2 separate regions of the Homo sapiens genome follow, and region 1 is linked to region 2. A link means that fine-mapping ties the variant in region 2 to the plasma level of a protein whose gene starts in the linked region. Region 2 holds a variant in brackets. A gene starts in the other region. All regions are shown on their reverse strands.

Region 1 (2,906 bases), not on the chromosome of region 2:
AAAGGCGACTGCCCCGGGCCCAGATCGCTGCCCGCCGCCCCGCTCCTGGAGGGCAGAGCACAGGCTGTGGGGCTCTCCGCGCGCGCCCCGGCCCGGTCCCGGGGAGCCGAACCCTCTCCGGACCGCGCCCCAAGCAGCGCCCGGGCGCCCTCTCCCCTGCCCGGCCGGAGCCGCGTCCCCCGCGCCCCGCGCAGCTCACCGCTCGTTGGCTGGCTCCGGACGGCTGCTGGCGAGGAGGTGCTGCGGGCGCCGGCGGGGCGGTGGCTCCGAGCCTCAAATACTCCCAGCCCCGCCCGGCCCGCCTCTCCCGAGGCGGGGCGGCGCCCCTGCCCAGCCAGTCCTCTCCCCGGACCAGGCTGGGCGAGCCCCGCGCCGGCCAGACACCCCGAGCCGCCGCCGCAGGGGCGACCAGGAAGCTCCCGACGGGGAGAGCGCGGGCACTGAGGGGCGCGACCTCCGCTGCCACCGTTAGGTTCCGTGGCGCTCCCGGGACCTGGGCTGCGGCCGCGTCTGTCCCCCGCCCTCTCCAGAATCACCTGAGTGAAGAATTCGCTGAGAGGAATTCAATTAATAGGTTGCTTTATTTGTAGAATACAAAACCAAAAATCTTTTCAATGTCTATTCCCTAGGGAACTGACTACAAATTGACTACTTATTCTAGATCAATAGGCCTAGTCTCAAAGCAATTCCCTTATAAAGCAATTAATCAGACAACTCTTTAACACATTTTACACAGGAAATTCACATTATATATATATATACCCTCCTTTTAACTTCACCTTATCTTTTTGTTGGAAGAAAGAGATAAGTATTATTATCTCATTTTTACTGTCAGGGTGCTATAGTCTGAATGTTTATATCCCGCCAAAGTTCATATGTTGAAATCCTAACCCTCACGGTGATGTATTAGGAAGTGGAGGCCTTGGGAAGTGATTAGGTCATAGGGGCAGGGTCCTTATGAATGAGATTGGTGCCCTAATAAAAGAGGCCGGAGAGAGACCCCTTGCCACTTCCACCTTGTGAAGACACAGCCAGAAGGCTCCCTCTGTGAACCAGAAAGCAGGCCCTCACCAGACATCAAATCTGCTGGCCTGGATCTTGGATTTCCCGACCTTCAGAACTGTGGGAAATAAATGTATATTGCCTATAAGCTACCCAGTTTATGATATTTTGTTACAGAAGCCCAAACAGACTAAAAGAGAAAATGATTTACTTATCCAAGCTCACTCATGTCTAGGAACAAAATCCAGAAATCCTGGCTCTTACACTTTACCTGGAAAAGCACCAGGCCAAAGAATCCTTGCAGGTTGGAACAAGGATCTCTGAGGAAAAAAAAAAAAATTAAGGGGGGTAGGGGAAGAATCTTTGCAGGGACTGGCTTATGTAAACTATGGAGAAAACCAGGTATCATCTGGTTCCTAAATAATTCCTGTAGCCCTTATAGTAACCAATTAATAACATAAAGATAAATTATTTCCTGCAGTTTTTCAACTTAGGGAAATGTTCCTGTGAAGGACTCACTTGATGGAATTGAGAAGCTGTCTTGGCATTCTCTAGGATAAACTTGAAAGTGTCTTAGTGGTTGGCACGGTTCCTGCAACATCGTCCCCTCTAGGCTTGCACATAGAAGTCACAGTGTGGCTGGGGATTATTTATGCAAGTTTGAACTCTTATCTGAAGAGGTAGCCTGGCAACCAATTTATTTGAATGGATCACCCATAGTAAATGACTAACCTCTGGGTAGTAAAAAGGTATCACCCAAAGGAATGCCCTTGGTCTCCAGGGAAAATGCTATAAATCTTAAGACTTTGAGTCATGAGGCCTCATGGCCAGGAGTGGTACCCTTAGAGGGTTAGCCATTGGTAATAAGAAAAGTAGATAGCCAAATGAATTGCTGTGGAGGCAAGGGATGAATCACACTCTTGCCTTTTCTTCTGGTCATTTCAGAGATAGACAAAGTTCATGCCCTGGCTACTTAGGGGGCTTGCTTACACCTGATTGTATGATCAGACATGCTTTTGGCTTCCCTTCCTTACTTGTACATCCCCATGAATACTTTGGTGCCAACTTCATGCCCCATAAAGCTAACAAAAGGATCCTGCTATGATCAGGGTGTGCCTGGGAATTTATAATTTGTACACATGCAATAAACGGCTCTTTATTACCCAATCCAAAGTCACATCCCTTTTCTAAGATAAGCGTAAAAAGGAACCCAATAAAATCAATTAAGATATCATTGAGTAACTTCTATGTACAGCTCACTGTGTTATTTGAAATAGGGACAAGGCAAGTGTTAGCCCTCAAACAAAAAGGCTGTCTGGTTTCTACGGATGCAGAGATTGTAAGCCGCTGATAAAAGCAAGGATTCTAAGAGAGGCATCTCCACAGGAGGGAAAGGAGGAAACTTGGGAAAGCAGGTGGCTGTCCAGAAGGTCAGGAGGGAAGCTGCGTGAGAACTTCAGTTAGAGCCAGAAGAGAGTAGGAGATGAAGATGAGAACAAAAAGGGAAAGTCTTTAAGGATAAGCAGAAAAGAGAAAGAAAGACAGTAATTGGAGAAGAAAGCAGAGCCGATTATTTATTTATTTATTTTATTTTTTTGAGACGGAGTTTTGCTCGGCTCACCGCAACCTCCACTCCCAGGTTCAAGTGATTCTCCTCCTGCCTCAGCCTCCCCAGTAGCTGGGATTACAGGCATGCACCACCACCCTGGCCAATTTTTAGTAGAGATGGGGTTTCTCCACGTTGGTCAGGCTAGTCTCAAACTCCCTACCTCAGGTGATCTGCCCACCTCAGCCTCCCAAAGTGCTGGGATTACAGGCGTGAGCCACTGCGCCCGGCAGCAAAGCCAGTTTTTTAAAGTCACCTTTTAAATAGGAAAATAGAACCAGAGAGAAAGGAAAAAGAG
Region 2 (2,893 bases):
CATCTTAATATCAATTACTTTATAAAAATTAACCTGTGCCTGGCTGGGCGCAGTGGCTCACACCTGTAATCCTAGCACTTTGGGAGGCCGAGGCGGGCGGATCATGAGGTCAGGAGATCAAGAGCATCCTGGCTAACACGGTGAAATCCCGTCTCTACTAAAATACAAAAAATTAGCCGGGCCCTGTAGTCCCAGCTACTCGGGAGGCTGAGGCAGGAGAATGGCGTGAACCCAGGAGGCGGAGCTTGCAGTGAGCCAAGATAGTGCCACTGCACTCCAGCCTGGGCAACAGAGCGAGACTCCGTCTTAAAAATAAAAATTAACCTGTGCCTGAGGCTCTAGAGTCCAATGGTACAAAGCAGTAATTGGTCAAAGTTCAACCTCCCTCCCACTCTGGGCTCGGACTGTGCCCTGAGGGCTTGTGTTTTGAATCTCTTTCCAGAACCTTGGCATGAGCTTGGGACTGGGTGTCTGGATCACTTCATCACACCCAGGTCACCTGCTGCAAGGTTAAGACCAACTTGGCCCAACAGAGAAAGCTGGCAACCCTACATCATTTTAAAACAGCTTCATCGGCTGGGCGTGGTGGCTTATGCCTGTAATCCCAGCACTTTGGGAGGCCAAGGCGGGTGGATCACTTTAGGTCAGGAGTTCGAGACCAGCCTGGCTAACGTGGTGAAACCCCGTCTCTACTAAAAATACAAAAATTAGCTGGGCATTGTGGTGTGTGTCTGTAATCCCAGCTACTTGAGAGGCTAAGGCAGGAGAATCACTTGAACGCAGAGGTGGAGGTTGCAGTGAACTGAGATTGTGCCACTGCACTCCAGCCTGGGCAACAGAGCAAGACTCAGTCTCAAAAATAAATAAACGGTTTCATCAGGATGTAATTCACATACCATACAGTGAGCCAACTTAAGGTGTACAAGTAAATAAGTCAATGGTTTTTGGTGTGTTACCTTTTTTTTTTTTTGAGACGGAGTCTCACTCTGTCGCCCAGGCTGGAGTGCAGTGGTGCTATCTCAGCTCACTGCAAGCTCCGCCTCCCGGGTTCACACCATTCTCCTGCCTCAGCCTCTCAAGTAGCTGGGACTACAGGCGCCCGCCACCACGCCTGGCTAATTTCTTTTTGTATTTTTAGTAGAGGTGGGGTTTCACCATGTTAGTCAGGATGGTCTCAATCTCCTGACCTGGTGATCCGCCCGCCTTGGCCTCCCAAAGTGCTGGGATTACAGGTGTGAGCCACCGCGCCCAGCCACCTTATTTTTAAATTGTAATTCCATATATCCATACATATATGTATAACATAAACTTCACCATTTAGGCTTTTTTTTTTTTTTTATGAGAGAGAGTTTTGCTCTTGTTGCTCACTGCAGCCTCTGCCTCCTGGGTTGAAGTGAGTCTTCTGCCTCAGCCTCTTGAGTAGCTGGGATTACAGGTGTGCACCACCATGCCCAGCTAATTTTTATATTTTTAGTAGAGACGGGGTTTCACCATGTTGGCCAGGCTTGTCTCGAACTCCTGACCTCAGGTGATCCTCC[C/T]GCCTCAGCCTCCCAAAGTGCTGGGATGACAGGCGTGAGCCACCGCACCTGGCGCATTTAGGCATTTTTAAGCATACAATTCAGTGGCATCGCGTGCAGTGTTGTGCAACCATCACTCCAGCATCTTTCCAAAACTTTCATCACCCCAAACAGAAACTCTGGACCCGTTAAACAAACATTCTCCCCTCTCCAGCCTCCAGTCACCTCTGTTCTACTTCCTGTCTCTGTGGATCGGCTCGTCCTGGACATTTCCCAGAAATGGGATCACACACTGTGTGGCATTTTGTGTCTGGCTTCTGTCATTGAATGTGATGTCCTCAGCCTTCATCCACGCTGTGGCCTGTGTGGGAGCCTCGCTCCTTTTCTTTTTTTTGAGACAGAGTCTTGCCCTGTTGCCCAGGCTGGAGTGCAGTGGCGCAATCTTGGTTCACTATAAGCTCTGCCTCCCGGGTTCAAGCAATTCTCCTGCCTCAGCCTCCCAAGTAGCTGGGATTACAGGCATGTGCCACCATGCCGGCTCTTTTTTTTATATCTTTAGTAGAGACAGGTTTTCTCTTTTTTTTTGAGACGGAGCCTCACTCTGTCACCCAGGCTGGAGTGCAGTGGCACAATCTCGGCCCACTGCCAGTTCCGCCTCCTGGGTTCACACCATTCTCCTGCCTCAGCTTCCCAAGTAGCTGGGACTACTGGCGCCCACCACCATGCCCAGCTAATTTTTTTGTATTTTCCATAGAGACTGGGTTTCACCGTGTTAGCCAGGATGGTCTTGATCTCCTGACCTCGTGATCTACCTGCCTCGGCCTCCCAAAGTGCTGGGATTACAGACATGAGCCACCTCGCCCAGCCTTTTCATGGCTGAGTGATATTCCATTGTGTGGATGGATCACACTAGGTATATTTGTTCTTCTATTGATGGACATCTGGGTAGTTTCTACCTTTGGGCTGTTTGTTCTGTTGTGAGTCAGGCTGCTGTGACCATGGGTGTACAAGTATCTGTTTGCGTCCTTTTGTTGTTAATTCTTTGGGGCTTCTACCTAGGAGGGAGATTGCTGGTGATGTGATAAGTATCTCTCAGGCTTTTCAAGGAAGCACCAAACTGTTTTCTACCCCGAATGTAATTTACAATTTCCCAGCAATAGGCCAGGCACAGTGGCTCACGGTGACTCCATCTCAAAAAATAATAATAATTTTAAAAAGAAAGAAAGAAAGAAAACTTCCCAGCAACCACATTAAAAAAGAATACCAGGAAATTTAATGTTTTTCTTTTTCTTTTTTTTTTTTTTTTTTTTTGAGATGGAGTTTAGCTTTTGTTGTCCAAGCTGGAGTGCAGTGGCGCAATCTCAGCTCACTGCAAC

Which allele goes with the higher level. Positions count from the first base shown, and alleles are read on the strand shown. Strength reflects both the effect of a copy and how common the allele is.
For the plasma level of the protein whose gene starts at base 248 in region 1, C is the high allele of the variant in region 2 and T is the other (weak association).

The links. PIP is the posterior inclusion probability: the model's chance that the variant is causal. Protein levels are from antibody-based Olink assays in UK Biobank. Linkage for the fine-mapping came from a reference panel and not from the study's own genotypes, which makes the PIPs less certain.
Region 1: it holds the start of LGALS3, and the variant in region 2 is fine-mapped to the plasma level of the LGALS3 protein (UK Biobank, PIP above 0.99).

What each region holds. Positions count from the first base shown.
Region 1 is chr14:55,126,594-55,129,499 of GRCh38, reverse strand. It overlaps LGALS3 (galectin 3), which reads right to left and starts at 248. Exons shown (of 6, transcript NM_002306.4): 1 at 200-248. RefSeq lists a silencer at 1-552.
Region 2 is chr19:5,870,002-5,872,894 of GRCh38, reverse strand. It overlaps FUT5 (fucosyltransferase 5), which reads left to right and starts at 2,355. Exons shown (of 2, transcript NM_002034.2): 1 at 2,355-2,430. RefSeq lists an enhancer at 1,603-1,897. The variant C/T (reference allele first, on the strand shown) is at 1,539.